Linked DNA regions of Homo sapiens. The protein of the gene in region 1 interacts with the protein of each later gene in a biochemical or structural test. Each region holds a gene or a part of one and is shown in the gene's direction. Other genes may lie near its edges.

Region 1 (3,500 bases):
AGTGGCTGCCATATTGAACAGTGCAGGTGCAGAGCATTTCCATCATCACGGAAAGTGCCATTAGACGGTACTGGTCTAGGGTATTTAAACACTAGTGTCAAGAAGTGACATTTCTTTCCCCTCCCCCCATCCTGGCAGGGAAACATGCACCTAAGGTTCATTCAGGTGCAGAGTTTTGGGCCAAGACCCAGAACATCCTGATCAGTGAGTCTAAGGAAGGAAGTGAAAATGAGTACATTTTAAAAAGCTACCCAGGGGATTTTCCCTGGGTAAGACACAACCAAGTCTTACCGCTGGTGACTGGTAAACAGAGGTTAGGATCTTAGAAAATTACATGTACCACAGGGCTGCAGCTGAGAGCTCCAAATTCCACTGCTTATGGGGTGAAAAGCGTTTCTTTCCAAAAGCTACATTAACTAATGATCCACCCATACGTAAAAAATAATAAAATGTGCATAAATGTGAAACCCTCTGATTTTCCTTCCCTTGTTAAACATTGGAAAAGGAAGTCAGTCGTATAATTTCAAAGCTCTGCTCATGTCTTTATTAAGTTAACATTCTCAGCACAAAATATGCTAATGTATTTTTTTTTAAGTAGATAAACTGCCAGGCACATTTTCACGTTTTCTAACTTAGCCTATAATAAGAGTGAAAAGCTCCAACAACCAAACACCTCTTTTCAGCCTTCTCAAAGACATGATAAATATCATTTCTGTGTGCTTTTATTTGTTCATTCATTCTCTCACTCAACAGAAATTTTTGGAGCACATAAAATGTACCAGACAATATTCTAGATACTTGATATACGTATAAAAATCCTCATGGAGCTAACATTCTAGTGGTTTTATGTACCTGCATATCAATGCCACTCATGCATGGGAGTTGGGGATAGTAAGAAAACCAAAGCAATAAGTAAGATGTATATTCTTTTGGAAGGTGGTAAATGCTAAGGACAAAAATAAAGCAGGAAAAAGGGATTGGGAATGTTGGAGGTACTGCAATTTTTAGTAAGGTGGTTAGGGAAGGTCTTGCTGCGAAGGTAATGGCTGTTGATGTCTCTGCATAACTGAAATGTGTTTCCCTTCAGGGCCCTGGAATGCCCTAGCAGCACCTGCTACAAGAGTGTAGGCCAGTCACCCTCCTCCCCCTAAAGTAAACTTTGGGGGTTATCTTACCTCACCTCAATTTCCATCTGATAATTGTCTTGGCAGCTGTCTCCCCAAAGCTCTTGGTGCAAGTGACACCACCCTCCCAACGCCTTGGCAGATGACTTTGCGTGGCGAATCCTTGTAAGTCTTGCCTTTCTTTAGCCACTATGACAGGGCTGTAGTTTGTCAACCTTCCAATAAGCTTTGGGACTGCGCTAGAGAGCAGGTTAGCGAAAGGACCTCTGATTGCAGGCAATTTAAAAGAGCCTTCTTTGCAAGAGCCAGAAACTTTTAAAATATGCAATTAAAAATTGTATGCATGCCCAGAGACCTTTTAAACTCTTTTAGATATAACTAACCAAAAATAACTTTCTTTCCTAGGTGCCAGGCTCCTAGTACAGGGGTGTAGGGGACTAATGTCTCCCTCTTTCTCTCTCTCTTTTTGTTTTGGATAACATTTTTGATAGAAAAGAAACAGGGCAGATGGAGAAGCTGTGTGTGGCAAGGACAGGGTATAAGAAGTAAGTAAAGTTAGAAGAGATGAAAGAAGCTGCTCATGAAATTAGGTCTACTACTTGGGATAATCAGAGAAGTTCCAGTAAGTTTCTCAATTACAGAGAAGTGCCTAGTAAAACCCAAAAGAAAACGTTTTGGTTTATGTTCAAAATGTTATTTGTGAATGTATCAAGAAAACTCAATAAAACCTTAGGTAGCATGTTTGGAAATAATTTAGCGATACCTCTATCTGTAAATTTATTTTATTTTTATTATTTTTTTGAGACAGAGTTTTGCTCTTGTTGCCCAGGCTGGAGTGCAATGGCGCAATCTCAGCTCACTGCAACCTCTACCTCCTGGATTCAAGTGATTGTCCTGCCTCAGCCTCCCAAGTAGCTGGGATTACAGGCATCCACCACCTCATCTGGCTAATTTTTGTATTTTTTTTTTTTAGTAGAGACAGGATTTCACTATGTTGGCCAGGTTGGTTTTGAACTCCTGACCTCAGTGCTCCACCTGACTCAGCCTCCCAAAGTGCTAGGATTACAGGCATGAGCCACCACACCCCCAGCCTAATTTATTTTAAATAAGACAGCTGAATTTGGAGCTGTGTGGCTACTGTTAGTAACTACTTAGTTTAGGGATTTTGTGTGTGTGTGTTGTGGGGGGGGTTTCTTTGTTTGTTTTTTTGGTTTGTGTTTTTTAAACAAATATCCTAAACTTGTTTTAAACAGTAATTCTTAGCCCTAGGCATGCGTTGGCTATATCACAAATTTAATAAAAGATCAGATAAATAGGAAAAAATCAGTTGAATTTAGAATTCAATTCAAAGTAATGACCCTTAATTTTGAAAATAGTCATTCTACATTTTTGTCAAATTATTATTTGTGACTATAATATGTTTTCTGGTATTATCTGTGCATTTTCAGCCTGGATTTTCCGTTTGATTAGTTCTGTTGGTTTTTCAAGTGGAAGCCAGGCCCAAAGCAGCACATCAGAAGCCATATAGCAAAATAAAATTAAAACAAAACAAAAGACATAAAACAGACCAGTTCCATTTTCTGTGAAGGGGTTTGTGGCAGCTCAATTCCTGTCAAAGTGCATGAATGGAAACCAAGAAGTGTGTCACCTGACAGGGACTAGTTTCATCCCTCTCTTGTAGTTTCTTTTGGACCCTGGAGTTGACATACTCAATGCTTTACCTCCCTCCATCAACACTGGGGCCTAGGAACATCCTTATTCCTCAAATTAAGAGAGGACTTTCTTAAGATGCTATATGCCCAAAGGCTCTAGGGCATAAGCGTGAAGAATTATCTATATGTTGTCTCAAATCTTGTTTAATTCTCCTTTTCACCAGTGGTGACATTCCTTATGCGTTTCTTATTTTAATCCAGGCAAACCCTTTTTTACACGAAACCCTTCTGAGTTGAAAGGCAAGTTCATTCACACAAAGCTGCGGAAAAGCAGTCGTGGCTTTGGCTTCACGGTGGTTGGAGGGGATGAACCTGATGAGTTTCTCCAGATCAAGAGCTTGGTCCTAGATGGTCCTGCTGCATTGGATGGCAAGATGGAAACAGGTAGCGTCAACATGGCCTTAGTGTGTTCTGTGTGGTGAGACTCCAATCCAGGAGATAAACATGTGCAATCATGATGTTGTTTGTTTGAGCAAGACCAAGCAACGTCATGATTGCACATGTTTACAGCTTTAAACACCTTGAGAATGAGCCAGGTCTCCACATTACATAAATTCATCCCTTGGGACAGATTAAAACCTGTGAAGTCATTTTAAGTTTGGGAAACTGTTTGAGTACAGTAAAGCAATGAGTTACTAAAACTGTAGATCCCCATTTAAATAAA
Region 2 (3,500 bases), on another chromosome or scaffold:
TGTTTCTTATATATTTGCCTTTGGATGATACCTTCAAACAACCAATTTAAGTCTGGACACTGTGGCTCATGCCTGTAATCCCAGTATTTTGGGAGGCCGAGGTGGGCGAATCACTTGAGTTCAGAAGTGTGAGACCAGCCTGGGCAACATGGCAAAACTCTGTCTCTACAAAAACATTACAAAAATTAGCCAGGCCTGGTGGTGTGGGCCTGTAGTCCCAACTACTCAGGAGGCTGAGTAGGGAGGATTGCTTGAGCCCAGGAGGCAGAGGTTGCAGTGAGCCGAGATCAAGCCACTGCATTCCAGCCTGGGCAACAGAGCAAGACCCTGTCTCAAAACAAAATAAGAAACCGATTCAAAATATTAATTTTGTCTATTTTTAATTCCTAGGGTCTGAAACCTGGCTTCATTACTCTGTAGGCAACAGTTCCTTCCCTTTGATTTGCTGTTTATATGAAACATGTAACAATTCATGTCATTAAGTATATCTTTTTCTGGTCTTAGATTAAGTTTAAAAAGTTTCACTTTGGGCCCCCCACGTTGTGGCTCACAGCTGTAATCCCAGCACTTTGGGAGCAGGCCGAGGGATTGATCACTTGAAGCCAGGAGTTTGGGACCAGCCTGTCCAACACGGTGAAACCCCGTTTCTACAATTAGCTGGGCGTGGGCATCCCACACCTGTCATCCCAGCTACTTGGGAGGCTGAGGAACGAGAATCCCTTGAACCTGGAAGGCGGAGGTTGCAGTGAGCTGAGATGGCACCACTGTACTCTAGCCTGGGCGACAAAGGGAGACCCTGTCTCAAAAACAGTTTCCACTTTGTTCACTATTTCTATTTTGTTCACTAGTAGCGTCCCAGAAAAGATTTGAGGTAGCAACACTAAAAACACACTAATTCCATTTCTACATAGAATAAACTAAAGAGAAAAGAGAAAACAATTTGTGGAGAAAAGTGAAGATAATTAGATAGGTTGGGATTGAGGGGAAGGGTTAAAGGTTAAAAAAAGAAAAATTGTGCTTCTCCATTCTGGAAAGTCCCCAGCTTTTTCTTTGTTTTGTTTTATGTCCAAACTGTGTACATATTGGATTCTTTCCTACTCCTTAGTCTATCAGTCAATCATCAGTTGAGACTTGAGTACACTACACCCTAAAGTCATGAGTTACTTAATGGGTAGTTGGAATTCAGTACCTTTAGTGTGTTTTATTCTCTAACTCACCTACCCGAATAATTTGATTCAAAATAGACTAAAAAGTCTTATTTTTATTGGATGATATGAGCAGGCACTAAATACAGTACAGTATTAAACTTTGGGCTGACACAGTACAGAACCAGTCAAGATAGGGCTCTAGCCTGTTAGGAGATTGCTTTTACTCTTCCAAGTCAGCGTTCTCACTGGGCACGGTGGCTCATGTCTGTAATCTCAACCCTTTGGGAGGCTGAGGAAGGGGGATTACTTCAAGTCAGGAGTTCAAGGCCAGCCTGGGAAACATAGCAAGATCTTGTAGGCTGGGCGTAGTGGCTCACGCCTGTAATCCCAGCACTTTGGGAGGCCGAAGCGGGTGGATCACAAGGTCAAGAGATCGAGATCATCCTGGCCAACATGGTGAAACCTGTCTCTACTGAAATGCAAAAATTAGCTGGGCGTGGTGGCTTGCACCTGTAGTCCCAGCTACGCGGGAGGCTGAGGCAGGAGAATCGCTTGAACCCGGGAGGCGGAGGTTGCAGTGAGCTGAGATTGCACCACTGCACTCCAGCCTGGCAACAGAGCAAGACTCCGTTTCAAAAAAAAAAAAAAAGATCTTGTCTCCACTGAAAATATAAAAAATTAGCCAGGCATGGTGGCATGTGCCCGTAGTCCCAGCTACTAGGGAGGCTGGGGCCAAAGGATCCCTTGAGCCTGGGAGGTCGAAGTGCAGTGAGCTATGATCATGCCTGGTCGGCAGAGTGGGACCCTTTCTCAAAAAACAAAATAAAATGAAATAAAATTAAACCAGAGTTATAAATCCTGTGAGCCAGCATTTTCCTTTGGGTCTCATAAAAACTAATCCTGTTTATGGTGAAACCCTGTCTCTACTGAAAACACAAAAAATTAGCTGGGCATGGTGGTGGGCACCTGTGATCCCAGGTACTCGGGAGGCTGAGGCAGGAGAATGGCGTGAACCTGGGGGATGGAGCTTGCAGTGAGCCAAGATCGCGCCACTGCACTCCAGCCTGGGCGACAGCGCGAGACTCTGTCTCAAAAAAAAAAAAACTAATCCTGTTTAGATTTTTGTTACCATTACCTCCAGTGCATACGATCTAATTTTTTTTTTGAGACAGAATTTCACTCTTGTTGCTCAGACTGGAGTGCAATGGCACGATCTCAGCTCATTGCAACCTCTGCCTCCTGGGTTCAAGCGATTCTCCTGCTTCAGCCTCCCGAGTAGCTGGGATTACAGGCATCCACCACCATGCCCGGCTAATTTTGTATTTTTAGTAGAGACGGGGTTTCTGCATGTTAGGCTGGTCTCGAACCCCTGTCCTCAGGTGATCCACTCGCCTTGGCCTCCCAAAGTGCTGGGATTACAGGTGTGAGCTACTGCACCCAGCTGATCTGATTCTCTTAATTAAGCAACACTAGGAAATACTAATGTTATAATTTTATTTTAAATTAGAATTCAGAGTCACAGGTTCCTGTTAGGAAGGTTCTTTCTGTGTGTAGTGCCCAGAAGCTCAAACTAATGACAGATGAAAATACCTCAGAGAAGTTGGAGGGTATAAATTAGAGATGTGCTTTATAGATCCTAACTGAGAGATCAGGCTGTGTACCTAGTCACAGAATTGATTTTAATTGAAATGTTGATGAAATTGGTGATCACCAGAATGACCCAAAGGTGTGTTACTAGAGCTCTTTGCAGGGATAGGTTCACCCCTATCATTCAGGTTTCAATTACACTATGAATCAAAAAAGGAATAGGATGAAATATTTAAAAATATAGGCCAGGGGCCAGGCGTGGTAGCTCACGCCTGTAATCCCAGCACTTTGGGAGGCCGAGGCAGGTGGATCACGAGGTCAGGAGATGGAGACCATCCTGGCCAACATGGTGAAACCCCGCCTCTACTAAAAATACAGAAATTAACCCGGCTTGGTGGCGAGCATAGTCCCAGCTACTCAGGGGGGGTGGAGGCAAGAGAATCGCTTGAACCCAGGAGGTGGAGATTGCAGTGAGCTGAGATAGCACCACTGCACTCCAGCCTGGGTGACAGAGTGAGACTCCTTCTCAAAAAAAAAAAAAAAAAAAAAATCTAGGCCAGGCCCGGTGGCTTACGCCTGTAATCCCAGCACTTTGGGAGGCCAAGGTGGGTGAATTACCTGAGGTTAGGAGTTCCAGACCAGCCTGGCCAAGATGGTGAAACCCTGTCTCTACTAAAAATACAAAAATTAGCTGGGGCAGAGGTTGCAGTGAGCTGTTATTGCACCAACGCACTCCAGCCTGGCAACAGAGTGAGACTCCATCTC
Region 3 (3,500 bases), on another chromosome or scaffold:
GAAACAGTAAGGCTGGGGAGACTGGTTGAGACTTATCCTTACATCTGGGATCTAAGACTGAGGTCGTGTTCAATTTACCAGATCACTCTGCCTCGGAGCCTCCATATCTATGTTGGAACATTCTGGAATGTTGCTAGGTTGGGTGATTCCTCTTTTCTGTAGGAGTTTCTTCCCCACTTTCACCTAGTACCGGTGACTAAATGCCCATGTGAGGGCATTAAGTGGGTAAGGCACTCTCTGGAAGCTTCTGCTTGATAAGCCGCCTGTCTAATTTGAGAAACAGCCCTGATGGAGGGTAGCAGGTGGAGGTGCCAGGTGCATTGTGTCAGGAGGGAGCCATGAAAACTGCTGAACAGTGCTTGTCTATGGCTTCACAAGTCCTTCAGTTCTTTTTTTGCTTTACTTTGTTTCATAGATATTAATGACTGTGAGAGCAACCCTTGTAGAAACGGTGGCACTTGCATCGATGGTGTCAACTCCTACAAGTGCATCTGTAGTGACGGCTGGGAGGGGGCCTACTGTGAAACCAGTGAGTCTGCCACTCTTTGGGGAGCTCTGGGATGTATGGGTCATGTTGGAGGGATCCCACTTCAACGTGGGAAAACTTTCTTTGTACTGGAAATCTCTGGAAGCAAGACCGCAGTGATTTCTGCACTGGGACAGTATCACTTGTGTCTCATTTGCATTTATGAGTCCTGATGATAGCTTATGGGGAGGAGCTTCTGCTGAGGACCTATAGAATTAGACTGTGTAATAAATATTCCTGCTTGCAAGGAAAGTCATATTTCTACTTTCATTTCCATGGGACTTCCAGAGGCCCACCCCACATCTTGCCTAACTTGTGGCATTCAAAGTAACCCAGTTGGGAGCTCCTTTATTCCTGGAAAAGCCTGATTGTGTTAAAGTACTACGACTGTGGCTGTTCTCAGAATAGGATGTTGGATGTAAGCAGTAGGAAAGGCTTGGCTCTCGCCTGTCGTGAATGGTCCTGGATCTCGTCTTCAGCCGATTGTCTCCCCTTTGATTCTAGATATTAATGACTGCAGCCAGAACCCCTGCCACAATGGGGGCACGTGTCGCGACCTGGTCAATGACTTCTACTGTGACTGTAAAAATGGGTGGAAAGGAAAGACCTGCCACTCACGTAAGTGGTAGTTGGCCTTGGATGCTATCTCTGGGACCCTTCCCTCTGTCTTCTGTGGGAGGGGGCCACTGGGACTCACACTGAAATATTTTCCTCCAGGTGACAGTCAGTGTGATGAGGCCACGTGCAACAACGGTGGCACCTGCTATGATGAGGGGGATGCTTTTAAGTGCATGTGTCCTGGCGGCTGGGAAGGAACAACCTGTAACATAGGTAACTTTATGCCCCACGTGGGATCTGCAGTGGGCATGGCCACCTGGGCGTGTCTGCTGGTTGGCCCCTGGAGCTTATGATATTTCTCTGGGCCTGGTTCTTGCCCCTCCAGACTGTTTCTGGATACTCAGGGAGGGTGGTCGTGTCTGCTCTTCTTTTATAGCCCGAAACAGTAGCTGCCTGCCCAACCCCTGCCATAATGGGGGCACATGTGTGGTCAACGGCGAGTCCTTTACGTGCGTCTGCAAGGAAGGCTGGGAGGGGCCCATCTGTGCTCAGAGTGAGTGTCCTCCCCCCTTGAACTCTCCCAGGGCTGTCGGAGCAGATCCTGACACCCTTGGGGACTTGCAATGGAAACCAGAAGCAGAGCTGTTTGATGTCTGCTTTTGTATCACCTGGGTCTGCATTAATGACTTGATGGGATACAGCCCTGACCTGGGCATGAGAAAGTCGCCAATAAGATAAGTGGAGACAGATGGCGTCTCAGTTCCCAGCTCTGGGTCTGACCAGCAGCCTGTCTCCTTCCATTCTCACCCCCACCCCTATCCCCTACCAGGGCCTCTTCCTGTGTACATGTGTCCCACAGCAAATGAAACTAAGTGTGGTGCGGGCCTGGTTCCAATTTAGCAAAGGTATTTTGCTGGTGTTAACTACGACTTTATCATTTGGGTATTAGGAAAATAAGTGGTGGTTTTACTTAGGGCTAAGACCGCTTTCCCTGTTGAAGTCCTCACTATTAAGTTGTCTTTTCTTTGCAGATACCAATGACTGCAGCCCTCATCCCTGGTAAGTGTGACATCCTTTTAAGCCAGCACTCATCCACTATCGTGTGTGTGTGTGTGTGTGTGTGTGTGTGTGTGTGTGTGAGAATCACCCAGGGATTGTGTTTAAAATGCAAGTTCTGAGTCAGGAGGTCTGGGGTGGGGCCTCAGACTGCTTTTCTAACAAGCTCCCAGGTGAAGCGATCCTGCTGCCCCATGGACCACACTTTAATTAGCCAGGTTGTGTCCTCATTTAGAGCAGTGATTTTTCAACCTTGGCTGCACACCAGAATCACCTGGGAGCTTTTAAAAATCCCGCTGCCTGGGCTGCAACCAAGACCTGTGAAATTAGACTTTCTGGGGGTGGGACCCAGGCATCAGTATTCTTTTAAAATTCCCCAGGCAACGGCCATGGGGTGAGAGCCACTGACTGTAACTGGTGTGGTGACATGTGAGTGATTGGCAGCCAGAGTAATGGACTGGGAGGTTGGTAACCAAGGTGGTCTTTGCTTTCTTAGTTACAACAGCGGCACCTGTGTGGATGGAGACAACTGGTACCGGTGCGAATGTGCCCCGGGTTTTGCTGGGCCCGACTGCAGAATAAGTAAGGACTGTCTCCGTCTGGTTTTCCCAATGGCTTTACCGCTTCATTCCATGCCTCACCCCAAGACTTTCATCTTTAAAAACAAAGCCACCATTCCCTTTAAGTAGCTCTCATAGAGCAAAGGATCTCTCTCCTCCAGCTGGGATTAAGATATGCCAGGCTGGATCCTCCCAGGTACCTGCTGGTAGTTCCCTGGGTGGTGTAGCCCTCCTTGTTCTTGGGGAGAGAGTGCCAGTCACAGAATCTGATGATTAATCTACAGTGGGGTCCTGAAGAAAGTATGTGCATTTCCCCATGACTAACATGAAATTATGGGCAAGCAGATGTTAACCACAGCTACACTGGTATAGGATAAAGCTAATACAAACGGAAGGGAGGACGACTGTGGCTTCCAGAGGCTTGTCTGTGCTGGGTCTGATCAGGCCCTGGAGAAATGACTAAAACAGGAAAATAGGGGCAGGCAACGCAGTTTTTCAAGAGGCTTAAAGCATATTATTTTGAGCCTTTTCTCTACTTTTTTACAAGCCCTTTCTCTTACAGAACAAAAAAGGTGCTAGAGTAGTTATGGTTTGATTCTTGTACCCAAATTGTCTGAAATTTTACTGGTGCTTGAAATCCAAGTCTGGGATTAACTAGTCTTCAGCACTAGATGGGGGCAGGTTGTATCTGTTTCATGTTTCTAAATAAACAGTTGGCAAACTGTGGCCCAGGGGCCGTATCCAGCCCACTGTCTGTTTTTATAAATACAGTTTTCTTGGCACACAGCCACACATTCATT
Region 4 (3,500 bases), on another chromosome or scaffold:
AAACTTAATGATGAGCTGCCATTAGAGGCTGTCAACAACAACAAAGCAGGAACCCTATTCTGAAAATGATAATTAAGGGACACTGATGTGTTGAGCAAAAATCAGAAGTTTGGTTTCCCATTTGTAACAGTAATTGAATATGGAGGCAAGTAGGGCCTCAGAAGACTGACGTTTTCAGGTTTTCTGTCTGTTCATAACTAACTGTATGGCCCATGCAATCAATTTACCTTCTTGGTGGCTTGGTTTTTATATTATCTCAGCAATATTTTATTGAATGCCTCTTATAGGCCAGCCACTTTGCTAATGACTAAAGAGCCACTGAATAAGAAAACTAGGGCTCCCTGCTGTCATTAGAGGTACGTTATAGAAGAGAAATATATGCTCAAAAAATACAGTAAAGTAGGAAGTGTTAGTGATAGGAGAGGAAGAGTGTCTTGTGGGAACAGATGAAAGGGGACACAGCTTAGAAAGTTGGGTGGAGGATGTGCCAAGTCAGTGGAGCCCTGTCAGGTGAAAGGGTAGGGCAGAGGAGGAAAGCTCAGGCATTTCACATAGAAGGGACAGTAGGCCAGGTGTGGTTGCTCATGGCTGTCATTCCAGCACTTTGGGAAGCAGAGGTGGGAGAATCCCTTGAGGCCAGGAGTTCAAGGCCCACCTGGGCAACATAGCCAGACCCCACTTCCACAACTTTTTTTTTTTTAACTAGCCTGGTGTGGAAGCATGCACCTGTAGTTCTAGCCACTTAAGAGGTTGAAGAGGGAGGATCACTTGGGCCCAGGAGATGGAGGCTGCAGTGAGCTTTGATAACACCACTGTACTCCAACCTAGGTCACTATAGAGACCTAGCTGTCTCTATAAAACAGACAAACAAACAAAAGAGTATATGCAAAGGCCTGGCAGCTAGAAACAGCACAAGGGTTTCTGAAGTTCAGTGTGTTACTAAGAGTCTGTGACTCCAAACTGTGTTGCAAATATTTCTATGCAAATTTCATGTGTGTGACAGCTTTCATGTGTTACACACACAGGAGCTGAAGGATCCTCACTGTCGGGATGAGATGGCAGCCGCCCGAGGGGCTCTGAAGAAGAATGCCACAATGCTGTACACGGCCTCTCAAGCATTTCTCCGCCACCCAGATGTCGCCGCTACGAGAGCCAACCGAGATTATGTGTTCAAACAAGTCCAGGAGGCCATCGCCGGCATCTCCAATGCTGCTCAAGCTACCTCGCCCACTGACGAAGCCAAGGGCCACACGGGCATCGGCGAGCTGGCTGCGGCTCTTAATGAGTTTGACGTAAGCATCCTGGTGAGGTACACAGAGGGGTGGGCACTGGTGTTGACAAAAAAAAAAAATGTATTGAGGATGAAGGGCCACTACAATAATTTACATTGATTTTTCTCTTTTGGAGGTTTTAATAGTAAGATAAACTACATAATGCATTTCTGTAATATATTGGCTAAGCCATTATCACTTGTCTTTAAAGAAACAACTGTGGCTGCGGTGGCTCACCCCTGTAATCCCAGAACTTTGGGAGGCCGAGGTGGGTGGATCACCTGAGGTCATGAGTTCGAACATGGAGAAACCCCGTCTCTACTAAAAATGTAAAACATTAGCTGGGCGTGGTGGCGCATGCCTGTAATCCCAGCTACTCGGGAGGCTGCGGCAGGAGAATCGCTTAAACTCGGGAGGCGGAGATTGCGGTGAGCCGAGATCGTGCCATTGCACTCCAGCCTGGGCAACAACAGCAAAACTCCGTCTCGGGGAAAAAAGAAGAAACAACTGTATTTAAGAGTGCCCAATCCCTTCCAGGTAGATGAGATAACTTACAGGCTATTTTAGGGACAGTTCATAATTTGACGATCATCTTTATTATTAAAGGGGCACATGTTATGGGCAGCCTAGATGTACGTTGCCTCTATGTTGTGCCTGCGTGAAAAGCTGCCATCAATTTCTTTGTTTTAAATCAGTGATAAAGTACATTGCCCTATGATCCCACACAGGACCCTGGTCTTCATTAGAACAGACCCTCTGGGGAGAGCCTGTGTTAGTTCTCTGAAAGTCCTACATTCTACACTGGCTGTTTCTGTAGGTGTGTCCTGGTGAGGGAAGAAGCAAGGAGGATTGTTCACTGTGCTGAGCCATATGTGAAGCATCAGTGTGAGTGAGAAGGTTGCACGCATGTCATCAGCACCCCGGGATGACAGCCCCCATTCCCCCCGGGTCAGAGGACCTGTGAGAAGTTGGAATTTATTTATCTTATGATCAATGAAAGCCTACAAAGATTTATAAATAATTAGCATCTACTTTCCAGGGTTAAATAACCCTGCAGGGGAGATGAGGGAAGTAGAATGCACTAAACACCATTTAATTGATAAAACACAATGTTACAGGAATTCATAGAAGAAAAATAGGTTACTTAATGGTCATGAAGAAAGATGATGAGCTTGCTTTTGAATATGTTGATGTGAATTTTTGGCAAGAAATAACTAGTTAGCAGCTGGAAAAAAAGGTCCAGGAGCAAAGCAATGATTGTTCAAGGCTTGGAGATGGATGATATAACTGAGGAATAATTTTAACAGTTCATACTCAAATAGTTCTTACCATTTTCATAGTGGTCTCTCCTCTTTCCCATATTTTTACAGTTAGTTATATGTATCTCACACCATATATTATTTCCTAAGGTTTTTTTTGTGAGGATTAAATATGATAATATATTTAAAGCACTTGCTACAGAAATGAAGACTTAATAATAGGTAATTTTATTCACAAAATTGCAGCGAGCAACTGAAAATTCATAGAAAATAATGAGAGTTCAAAATAATGTTTACTTTATATAACATAAATATACAAAAATCTCTAGATTTTCATCATGTAAAATAAAGTAGAATAACGAGGAGATATTCACAAAACAAATAATTTTTAAAAAGTTAATTTTATTTTATTATTTCTTATATCTGCTAGAAATAAGTCTAATATAGATGTGAAGGACCTAAAAAGTCAAATTATATTACTTTATTGAGGGACAAGTTTTACTTGTCAGTAAATGATATCATGATCTTGAGTAGGAGAACTATTGATCCTATCAGTTTTCATAATGTTGAAGCAATCTCAATACAAATTCTAAGAGGATTCTTTTGGAACTTGACAGAGGAGTGATAAAGGATTTTTGTTTGTTTGTCTTTTTTTATATTCTAGAATAAAGAATGAATGAGCCCATATTTCAGGGAAAAGTAAATGAGCAGGTCATACACACAGATATTAAAACATTGTAATGCTACATTAATTTTAAAGGTGTGTATTGAAACACAAATGGACTCATCCATGAAAGAATAAAAATCATAGGCAATCTCAAATACAAAATTATTTTATAAATTGGTGTTTATTAAAATTAGTTAAGAATGGATTATTTAGTCAGATTTTGACACAATTACATTATTCTAGTTATAATTTATTTTATAATCAAAAATAAACAACAAAACCTAAGTGAGGAGCTGGTTAAGA
Region 5 (3,500 bases), on another chromosome or scaffold:
TTTTCTATAGTCAGATTATCACATGGTAATGAGGACCACTATATAAACATGTTCAGTATTTTCTTTACTGTGTTAGTGGATCCTCCTGGTAACAGACTGTAGGATGGAATTGGGGTGCTAGAGGTTTATTAGGGGAGGAGGTAATGCTTGTGAAAGTTGAAAGGGAGAGGGAGAAGGATTGGACAGGGGTAACCTCAGACCGGCAAGCAAATCTGACAAAATTTTTTCCAACTCAAAGGAGAACCTTGGGGGAAAGGTGCCCATCAGAGGAGTCCCATGCTGCGAAAAAATGGCCAGGTCTTAGAATTCCTACTGTTGACCTTCCAGCATGAAGATTCAGAGCCTACTAGAAAATCAGAAATCTCTTTCTAGGTGTGGAAAAATGGTAATCAGTAATGCTACTTGCCAAGTACCAAATACTGTGCTAAGTACTTGATTCTCTCATTTAATTATCACAGTAACTTTATGAGATGGGCACTGTAATTGTTCACATTTTTATAAATGAGAAAATGGGGCTATGAGATGTTAGATAATATACTCAACTCACACAAGCAGCCATGATTTATACTCTGACTTTTACCTCTGGGGCCCACCCCTCCTACTGGTACCCTCATTGTGGAGATCAGCTGGGCACTGCTTAGTGACATTATGTATACACATGTCCTCTGTCCCAGCAATCTCCGCCCCGAGTCTCTATCCCAGGGAATTTCTCACCCAGGTCTATAATGATTCTTGCAGTAATTCTGTGGTGTTAGAGAATTAGGGGCAATCTGGGTGTTTATAATGGGGTATTGTGTAGCAATAAAAAGCAATGGCTTAAATGTGCACAAATCAGCATGGACAAGATCGTAAAAACAGGATAACATGTGACAGAAACAATAGGATATATGGTATGATATCATTTACATACATTAAAATACATGCACATAAAACAGTAATATATGTTTTATGAACATATTCAGATAAAAGATTGTGTGTGTGTGTGTGTGTCTTACATAAATGCTTGTATATGGGAGGTAGAGAAGTAGGAGTGGGGTATAGACATAAAATGGGATAAATCAATAAATCAAGTAGGCCTGCACTCTGCATCTCAACGCATGTGTTAATTACAAATTGTGGTGATAATAAACAGAACTGTCAAAACTATTACTGATGGAGTTAAGAATGAGGACAGCCGGGCACAATGGCTCATGCCTGTAATCCCAGCACTTTGGGAGGCCAAGGCGGGCAGATCACTTGAGGTCAGGAGTTCGAGACCAGCCTGGCCGACATGGTGAAACACCGTCTCTACTAAAAATACAAAAATTAGCTGGGCATGGTGGCACACGTCTGTAGTTCCAGCTACTTGGGAGGCTCAGGTGGGAGGATCGCTTGAACCCTGGAGGCAGAGGTTGCAGTGAGCTGAGATCATACCAAGTCCTAGAATATAGGCAGCTTCTCCAAAGTGGAAACTAGGGACTGTCTTTGGCAGAATGAAATGGAAACTCAACATTTGATTATCTCTATACTGTGTTTATTGCCACAAACACTATTGTAGTTAAAGATAAGAGAGTTGGTTTGTTCTCATTCTTTTCTCTTGACAACGAGGACTATTTCCATTTGTCTTCTAGTTATAAGGAAGCCTTAAATCCCTGAGGAATGGGCTTCCTGGTGGCTGCATTAATTGTGAGTAGTCTCTTCAGCCCTGGTAGACCAGAGGCAGTGAGATGGAAGGGTCCCAGGTGTGGCTCTTCCTTGCCAATGCACAGAGAGTAGGTTTCATATTCCCAGAACTTCCTCAATTCTTTGTGACAAAATAAAATATTTTCAGCAGGCATTCATGCATCTCACTTATTTTCCTGTCTTGAACTTCAATTGGTTTTGTCATCTACTGGAACCCATCTTGTCCTTTCTTTCCCCTCTGTTTTGTTTTTTTCTTTTCTCTGGGTTATTCATTAAATTTTTAAACAGCCGTGTGACTTTAGTCGTTAATTTCATCTCTTGGTTGTCTCCACTGGCTCCACTGTAAAATAGGACTTACTCATAGAATAAGCATTATAGTGACATCTACTCATAGAATGTGAGTCTTGAATTAAACATATACAAACAAAAAGCTTAAAGGTGCCTGATAACAAAAGATGTCAGCTCTTTCCTCTTCTTTTATTAGCAGATGAGTTAAGTTATTTTTAATGGAATGATTACTAGATTAAGATTATTTCTAAGCATTAGTGAGAACTCCTGAAGGCTTTTAAATGGGGTGTGTATGTATGTGAGAATTTTGCGAGGCCATTTTCTCTTCCTTTTATTTCTTACGGCTTCTTCTTCAGAACCCACATTTTTTCTGATAGCAATTGGACATTTTCTTCATAACACTGATAGCTGTTATAATATTACATTTATTAATATAAGTACTTGATCAATATCTAACTTCCTCATTGCTTTTGCTCAAAATTTGTTTCCTTCTTGCTGATGGATATTACCACTTTACTTTTCCCAGTTGTTATTGTCTCCCAGGATCGCACAGCTGTGCTGCATGACAGATGTGTTGCCTAGAGGGAGTGACACTAGTTAGAAATGAATAGAACATTGGCCACTGCTGCTATTATGTGTAGATCTATAATTTGGCCTTCAGCCTGATTTTCTGTAATCTCAGATTCTCATTGCCAATTGCTGGCAGGAAACAGTCTTCTTGATGACTTGTCATGTCCAAAAACAGGTCAACACTATTTCTAGAGTGATAATCATTGGCTGATTTCATTTCCCCATGAAATGAACTCCATCACTGAGTAGAGCTGCCATAGAATAGCCTTGAAAGGCAGAGGTAGTGCTGTGTGAGGACACTGTACTGGGAGATAGGACACCTGGCTGTAGTCCACGTTTTACTATAAATTAGCTGGGTGGCCACAGATAAGTGGCAAAATTATGGGTCTCATTTTATCATGTCAAGAGTATAAGGTTTAGAGTTCCAGCATACCAGAGATTCATATTTTTTCAGGTTATCAACAGAGCTAGCTTTAAAGAGTGTTTTTACTATATACATATAACAGGGATCAAAAGCAGAAACTACCCACATTTCTATTTAGTCTTTGTCTATGTGCCTATTCAATTAATATATACTTTCAATTATGTCATAAATGAAATTTTATATATATTTTCACTTGACATTATACAATCCACTTTTTTCCATTTTCCTATGACTATTTTCCTGTCTTATGTACTCATTCTCTTTCTCTCTCACTACTGTCCCATCTCCTCTCAATCCCACTCAGATAATACTGTGTATCTTCCACCTCTTTCTCCATAATTTATTTGCTCATATAAAATATAAACACAGATGTAGTTATTTCATCTTTATTTGTTTAAAAAGTGACCACACACACACACACACACACACACACACAGAATGTTTATAAACAATGTAGAAGACTGGCAATTTGAACTCATTAAATTATATTACAAATGACAGAGAGCCACCACTTGAATCTTGAGAAAGTGATCCTCCTTTCATCTTGGAGTGTTAT
Region 6 (3,500 bases), about 27 Mb from region 1:
TTTCCATAAAATGAGAGTGAAATCAGAATTGGTGATTTCCAAGGGCTCTTCCACCCAGCCTGTTAATTCAGTGGCAGGAGGATTTCCCAGTTGATCTCCTGGGGCCAATCCCTTCCTGGGTCTTTTCAGAAAGAATCCTGCAGTTTCGTTGCAACCATTCTTGCCAGAAGTGAAATCTATCATCAGTATGAGAAATGTTCAAAGGGGTGAGTTACCCTTGGCCACTATGTCCACAGACCAGGTCAGGGGGTGCTTTGCTGGCCTTGAATGGGATACTTCAGGCCAAAGAGACTTTAGCCTAACAATTGAGGCAGAGACCAGTTTGGGTATTGGAGCTGCTGTCCATCAGTCTTCACTTTGTTCCCTTCGAGACATGCAGGTCTCCAGCCCAGTAAACCCACCAAAGGGTACAGGAAGCTCTGTTACAGATGAGGAGCTCTGGACCATGAAGAGCTTGTGAATCTCACCACCGCCACTACTCTGGACCCAGACCTGTGAGGTCCACCCACTGCCCAGGCAGTTGCCAACATCTGCCAGGAACGATTTCCACAAGGAAGGCTGAGTGCCTCTGAGCCCTGGGTGGGCAGCAATGTCAGTGGCACCATGGGGAGGTCATCCTCTCCCCATCTTGTGTTTGCTCATCATGGCCTCCCTGCCTGTGGGTCACAGGCCCAGCAGCAGCAGGCACAGAAGCCACAGGCGCTCCTAACACATTAACCGGCTGGACAGTGGATGGATGGAGCTTAATCTGAGATCTGGCCGCTTGGGACAGGGACATGAGGGGCAGGGCCCTGCCGCTGGCAGAGGAGCCTCCTCATTCCCCATGCTCTGCTTGCACTTGTCCTAGGACAGTCGCTAAGGGCCAGACTGGTGTCTACACATGCTTTTCTGTCATTCTGCTATGTGGTGCTGGCTTCTGCAGGGAGCTAGGCTGTGCAACTAACAGAACACAGCCTCTCAGCTATGGGAAATGGGATGGATGGGGGTGTGGGGAGGTTCTAGAGGGACAGGGCAAGTGAGAAGATGCAATGCAGGTCAGTCCTGTTCCTGAACCTTCCCTAAAGGTGGGCCTGAGCCAGCGCAGGCCCCTTAGACATCACCCGCCATGACCCCGCCAGACCGTCACCCACAGCCCCCAGCACACACCTGACCACAGCCCTCAGCCCCTACCCGACCAGACCCTGGGCCCCTAGTTTCCTCCAAACAATCCACACTCCCTGTACATCAAATAGAGCCAGCCCCAGCAGTGGGGCAGGAGGACCTCCAGCAGGAATGGCTCTATTTCTCCCCATCTCAAGATCAAGGCTGAGGCCCCTCAATTGCCTCCATCTCCTTTTCCATGGACTACATTAAAAGGGGTAGGCCTAGCACACCTTCAGACTAGCCAAAGGGGGTCATGCTCTGAGTATGTGTTGTCTCAAGAAAGCAGCACTTTCCACACCCATGCCATATATTTGGCTGGTGGAGAGCAAAGAGGAGCAGGCTCCCTCTGAAACTACAAAGCCAGCCTAGACTCCTGCCCAGGGAAATCAGGACAGAATCTCAGCTGTGAGGAAAGTGGGGCTTGGGTCTCAAAGCCCAGGAGAAGCCTCCCTTATTCTGTCCCCACCTCTGGTTGCCTACACTGGCCCCACCCCAGCTCAACTCAGGCCCAGCCCCCCACCAGTGGAGCACAGAGCTCGGTGCCCCTGGGTGACCCCGTGCTTGTTCTTGCCTTCCCCAGGGCTGAAGACCATCGTGGGGGCCCTGATCCAGTCTGTGAAGAAGCTGGCTGATGTGATGGTCCTCACAGTCTTCTGCCTCAGCGTCTTTGCCCTCATCGGCCTGCAGCTCTTCATGGGCAACCTAAGGCACAAGTGCGTGCGCAACTTCACAGCGCTCAACGGCACCAACGGCTCCGTGGAGGCCGACGGCTTGGTCTGGGAATCCCTGGACCTTTACCTCAGTGATCCAGGTGCGAACTTGCTCTGCAGCTGGGGAAGACTTTGTGAGACCAGCAGACCGGGGTCACCTCCCACACACGCGTCACCAGAGGGCAGGCCTCCAGGGCTGTTCAAGCCCTGCCTGATCCCCCAGAGACCCAGACAGAGGACAGACGGGTAGCAGACTTAGGGCCTGCCTTGTGACTTCCCAGGCTAGACGGAGAGGCAATGCTTGAGGAGTGGAAAGTATGGAGTTAGATAGAGGGCCAGTTGGCTGCGGCATTTGGAGATGGGACTGACCCTAGAGTGTTGCAATGGCAAGGTGACCAGCCTGCCCACAGAGTGTCAGCTTAGGAAAGGGGTGGACATGGAGCCAGCGTAGTTGATGAGGCTTCAGAGTGAAGCCCCACCTAGCTGGCATGGAGATTTCCCAGTTGCCGTCAGTGTTCCTTGCCAGGATGCTCGTTCCATATACGTGTACCCCAGAACCCTGCAAGAGGGTTGGAACAAGCCCAATGATTGTGCCAAGTTGTGTGAGCCCCTCTGTTGTTTCACTGCCCCGTGGCTCACACTTCCATTCTCCAGGCTGATGGCCAGCACCACTCTTGACTAGAGCCATTGGTCTGTTTCGGAGGTACATGCTGCTGCAAGGCCAGATTCCAGGCCACAGGACCCTGGGCCAGAATGACCCTGAGGGCCATTCTGAAGTTAGGGCCTCTTACATACACCAGCAGTCCACTTTGGAAAACAAAACATAGACACTCAATGAGTAGTTCAGCAGTGGCCTCATAACAGCAGTTCTAAAACTTCCATGTACACCCAAGTCACCTAGAAGGCTCTGGAAAACAGACTTCTGGGCCCCACCCCTAGAGTTTCCGAGTCAGTAGGTCTGGGTGGCAGTCAGGAAGTTGCATTTCTAAGCAGTTTCCACTTGATGCTGATGATGCTGGTTCGAGGACCATGCTTTGACAACTGTCGCCTAAGACAAAGCCAGGTAATGGTGAGTGTTGGGGACTGATGACTTGCCACAGAAAGGAGAGGACAAGACGGGCAGTCCTGTCTGGTGTAGCCCCATCCGGACAGACCACAGCGTTAGCATGGTGACTATTGCAGGCATCACTTCCAGCATTTTATGTGATGGAAGTGAGTACAGAGCTGGGCAGTAGCCGGCCAAGGCCCCACAGTGACTCGGCAGCCAAGCCGTAACTGCCCAGACCCTTGCCTCCTGGCCTTGGTGGGCCCCCTGAGTGGTTTCGGGTAGGGTGCAGAAGCTTCCTGTGGGGAGAGCTGAGGCCCTGCCCAGGGCTTCCCGTGTCTTCTGAGAGCATGGGGACACTGGCAGCAGGATGTCTTCAGAGGAACAGAAGGAAGGCCAGAGGCACAGCCAGAGTTGCCTGAAGCCTGGCCAGGCAGAGGGCAGGGGCAGGGGCAGGGAAGGGGCAGAGAAGAAGGAAGACCGCTAGTGAGGTCTCCACCTCCCCAGAGCCCTGGATGCAAGGCGGAAACTTTTGGGCCAGAGTGCCCCTCACCAGCATGATGTTTCTCTTACAGAAAATTACCTGCTCAAGAACGGCACCT
Region 7 (3,492 bases), on another chromosome or scaffold:
AAGTTTGATCAGGTTAAAGGATAAACTATTTTCTTGAGTTTATATTCTACCCAGATCAATACAAAATCTTTAAGATTATTCAATAATATACCAAAGGGCCTCAATCTCAGGGGAAAAACTAGTGGGCTGGAAATTTTCAAAAACACATACAATTTAAGTGATTAAAGTTTAGACAAATCCTATTTGTACCAATGGCTTCAGAAATACTACAATAGTAGAGCTGAAAGAGATCTTGGCTGCCATCCGTTTAATCTCATTTCTCCTTCAGAAAAACCAGGGTTATGGTACTGAACTATCGTTTCCTGTCTCCCCTCAGGTAGCTGAAAATAAGGTCATAATAATTACTGATATTCCCACATTCCTTCAGAGTTTACAAAGTATCTCTTTGTTTATTATCTCATTTGTTCCTTACAATTATTTTGTGTGGTAGACACAACAGTCACTACTACCGGGATTTTTTTTTTATAACAATAGATAAAACTGAGACTCAGAGAAACTAAACAAAATTTTACCAATTTGGCATGGCTCATGGAGCCAATAGGTAATTTGAACCCAAGCTGTCTGATACTCTTTCCATCACTCATGCTGCCTCCCTGTAGATGAGATGATAAAGAATATAACTTAAATTTGGGCCAGGCACGGTGGCTCATGACTGTAATCCCAACACTTTAGGAGGCTGAGGTGGGCAGATCACTTGAGGCCAGGAGTTAGAGATCAGCCTGGCTAACATGGCAAAACTCTGTGTCCACTAAAAAAAATACAAAAATTAGTTGGGTGTGGTGCACACCTGTAATCCCAGCTACTCAGGAGGCTGTGGCAGGAGACTTCCTTGAACCTGGGAGGCGGAGGTTGCAGTGAACCAAGATCACGCCACTGCGCTCCAGCCTGGGCAAAAGAGCGAGACTCTGTCTCAAAAAAAAAAAAAAAAAAAAAAAAAAAAAAGAATATGACTTTAGTTTGAATGAAATATAATTATCTGATTATCAATTCAATGCATCATTACATTAGAGTTTAGAATTCTGAATGGTATAACAAAATAGTACTGCATGTCTTTTTTACTGAGTTTCTTTCTGTTGCTGTTGCTTTTTAACATTTTAATATCAACATACAAATTTCATAATACCTTGGTTTGATTTAATACCTTTTTTATAATATTTCAAATACTTGAATTTTTGTATTAATATATAGCAAAAGAACATAAAAGAGCACCAATGTTTATCTACAAACCACAGAGCAAAAAAGTTTTAGAGGGAGATTCAGTGAAACTAGAATGCCAGATCTCGGCTATACCTCCACCAAAGCTTTTCTGGAAAAGAAATAATGAAATGGTACAATTCAACACTGACCGAATAAGGTAGGATATGTATTTCTAGACTTACTATAGTTTATTTGGGTGAATCCAGTTATACTTTTTAACATGCATTATAAATGGCATGCATTTATCTCAATTTGTCTAGTTTTTAAAACACTAAAGAATAATATAATAAAATATATATTAGATAAAAATGTAAGAAAACTTCAGTAAGCCAGATTCCACTAATCAGAAATGTAAGGCATAAAGTAGACTAGGATTTATCTTTTTATCAACGATGATGAAAGATGGCCCAAGGAAATAAATGACATAAACAAGATTAAAGGGGGATGTTTTCTTTTCTTTTCTTTCTTTACAAAAAGCTTCAGCCTTTATTAAACAAAGGAGGAGGTAGGAGACAGATAACGGAACAGGTCAGGACCCCTCCATTCCCCTATACATACGCATAAATACAAACACAGACACACCCGAGTGAATGACAGGGACCATCAGGGGACAGATTGAAGAGCAGAGGGAGACAGCACCCAAGGGGGGATGTTTAATTCAAGAAAACCAATAGCTATTTGGCAATAAATAGATACAGCTTTGGAATTTTCAAATGTTTTTTTCTTCCTAGTCTGACTGTTGGTCAGAGACATCCACTTCACAGAAATAATTCCTGTACTTTCATTTCTTAAAAATTTTTATTTCAGCTTATATCAAGATAACACTGGAAGAGTTACTTTACTGATAAAAGATGTAAACAAGAAAGATGCTGGGTGGTATACTGTGTCAGCAGTTAATGAAGCTGGAGTGACTACATGTAACACAAGATTAGACGTTACGGGTATGTCATACTATTAACCAAAGTATTATAAGGGATTTAACTAGGAAGATTTAATAAGAAATGAAAATCCCAGCAGAGTATAAAATTTGAGATATTTTCCCCATATATAATCAGTTTTGGTTCTTTTTTCTTTTCCTGTCTGATAATAAATACCTAGTGTGACCAATTTGGTTAGAACAGGTTTTCTGAATCAACTTTTATGTGATCTATTTCAGCACGTCCAAACCAAACTCTTCCAGCTCCTAAGCAGTTACGGGTTCGACCAACATTCAGCAAATATTTAGCACTTAATGGGAAAGGTTTGAATGTAAAACAAGCTTTTAACCCAGAAGGAGAATTTCAGCGTTTGGCAGCTCAATCTGGACTCTATGAAAGTGAAGAACTTTAATAACTTTACCAACATTGGAAAACAGCCAACTACACCATTAGTAATATATTTGATTACATTTTTTTGAAATTAATCCATAGCTGTATTAACAGATTATGGTTTTAATTAGGTAATATAGTTAATATATATTTATAATATTATTTATCCTTTGACTCTTGCACATTCTATGTACCCCTCCGATTTGTGAAGCCTACAGGAAATCTGGGTATATGGATTTGTAACTGCAGAAGACTATCTTAAAATACAGGATTTTAACATTTAAGTCATGCACATTTAACAATTACAGGTTATAAATTAGTATCAACTTTTTAAACACATCTAATGCTTGTAATAACGTTTACTGGTACTGCTTTCTAAATACTGTTTTACCCGTTTTCTCTTGTAGGAATACTAACATGGTATAGATTATCTGAGTGTTCCACAGTTGTATGTCAAAAGAAAATAAAATTCAAATATTTAAAACGGACTGTCTCCTCTTCACAAAAGTCTAGATCTGTAAAATAAAACTCCACTCAGCAAAACCTATGAATAACAAGTTCCAAAAGAGCAATGTTATATTCTAGAACAGTGTGAAGCTCACTTACAGCTCAGCCAATTCCTCTAGAAACTAAGCTAGACTTGCCATGGTTTGCACTTCAAAGGCAATCACAAGAACTTAAATCATGACTGAATCTACTGAATTTGTGATTTTGTTTTAACCAAACAGGTTTCTAATTCTTCAGGATTTTTCAGTCTGTTATGCTCAAAGGAATAAGAATAGTCTCTAGAGATTACCTGCTTAATTCTCATAGTTAATGTAAATTTGACAGCCCGGTAGTCCCAGCTGCTGGGAGAGGTTGAGCTGGGGATCCCTTAAGATCAGGAGTTTGAGGCCAGACTGGGAAATATAGCGAGACTCCATCTCTAAAAAAAAAAAAATTATGTAAATTTGATTACCTATATATGGGTGTTTTTCCTCTAATAATT

The links.
Region 2: the proteins of MAGI1 (region 1) and EZH1 interact in a test that uses a peptide from one of them, tested with the Homo sapiens proteins (one large-scale study listed by IntAct).
Region 3: the proteins of MAGI1 (region 1) and JAG1 interact in a test that uses a peptide from one of them, tested with the Homo sapiens proteins (one large-scale study listed by IntAct).
Region 4: the proteins of MAGI1 (region 1) and CTNNA2 interact in a test that uses a peptide from one of them, tested with the Homo sapiens proteins (one large-scale study listed by IntAct).
Region 5: the proteins of MAGI1 (region 1) and PTH2R interact in a test that uses a peptide from one of them, tested with the Homo sapiens proteins (one large-scale study listed by IntAct).
Region 6: the proteins of MAGI1 (region 1) and SCN5A interact in a test that uses a peptide from one of them, tested with the Homo sapiens proteins (one large-scale study listed by IntAct).
Region 7: the proteins of MAGI1 (region 1) and MYOT interact in a test that uses a peptide from one of them, tested with the Homo sapiens proteins (one large-scale study listed by IntAct).

Annotation. Positions count from the first base shown.
Region 1 is NC_000003.12:65,430,419-65,433,918, reverse strand, and holds part of MAGI1 (membrane-associated guanylate kinase, WW and PDZ domain-containing protein 1), read left to right. Parts: intron 1-3,037; coding exon 3,038-3,220; intron 3,221-3,500. UniProt on the Homo sapiens protein: Plays a role in coupling actin fibers to cell junctions in endothelial cells, via its interaction with AMOTL2 and CDH5. May regulate acid-induced ASIC3 currents by modulating its expression at the cell surface.
Region 2 is NC_000017.11:42,738,541-42,742,040, reverse strand, and holds part of EZH1 (histone-lysine N-methyltransferase EZH1), read left to right. Parts: intron 1-3,500.
Region 3 is NC_000020.11:10,643,000-10,646,499, reverse strand, and holds part of JAG1 (protein jagged-1 precursor), read left to right. Parts: intron 1-415; coding exon 416-529; intron 530-1,030; coding exon 1,031-1,144; intron 1,145-1,243; coding exon 1,244-1,357; intron 1,358-1,520; coding exon 1,521-1,637; intron 1,638-2,115; coding exon 2,116-2,143; intron 2,144-2,636; coding exon 2,637-2,722; intron 2,723-3,500. UniProt on the Homo sapiens protein: Ligand for multiple Notch receptors and involved in the mediation of Notch signaling. May be involved in cell-fate decisions during hematopoiesis. Seems to be involved in early and late stages of mammalian cardiovascular development.
Region 4 is NC_000002.12:79,873,051-79,876,550, forward strand, and holds part of CTNNA2 (catenin alpha-2), read left to right. Parts: intron 1-1,025; coding exon 1,026-1,292; intron 1,293-3,500. UniProt on the Homo sapiens protein: May function as a linker between cadherin adhesion receptors and the cytoskeleton to regulate cell-cell adhesion and differentiation in the nervous system. Required for proper regulation of cortical neuronal migration and neurite growth.
Region 5 is NC_000002.12:208,409,792-208,413,291, forward strand, and holds part of PTH2R (parathyroid hormone 2 receptor isoform 1 precursor), read left to right. Parts: intron 1-3,500. UniProt on the Homo sapiens protein: This is a specific receptor for parathyroid hormone. The activity of this receptor is mediated by G proteins which activate adenylyl cyclase. PTH2R may be responsible for PTH effects in a number of physiological systems.
Region 6 is NC_000003.12:38,608,188-38,611,687, reverse strand, and holds part of SCN5A (sodium channel protein type 5 subunit alpha), read left to right. Parts: intron 1-1,723; coding exon 1,724-1,954; intron 1,955-3,473; coding exon 3,474-3,500. UniProt on the Homo sapiens protein: Pore-forming subunit of Nav1.5, a voltage-gated sodium (Nav) channel that directly mediates the depolarizing phase of action potentials in excitable membranes.
Region 7 is NC_000005.10:137,884,860-137,888,351, forward strand, and holds the end of MYOT (myotilin), read left to right. Parts: intron 1-1,188; coding exon 1,189-1,354; intron 1,355-2,004; coding exon 2,005-2,138; intron 2,139-2,353; coding exon 2,354-2,526; 3' UTR 2,527-2,992; downstream 2,993-3,492. UniProt on the Homo sapiens protein: Component of a complex of multiple actin cross-linking proteins. Involved in the control of myofibril assembly and stability at the Z lines in muscle cells.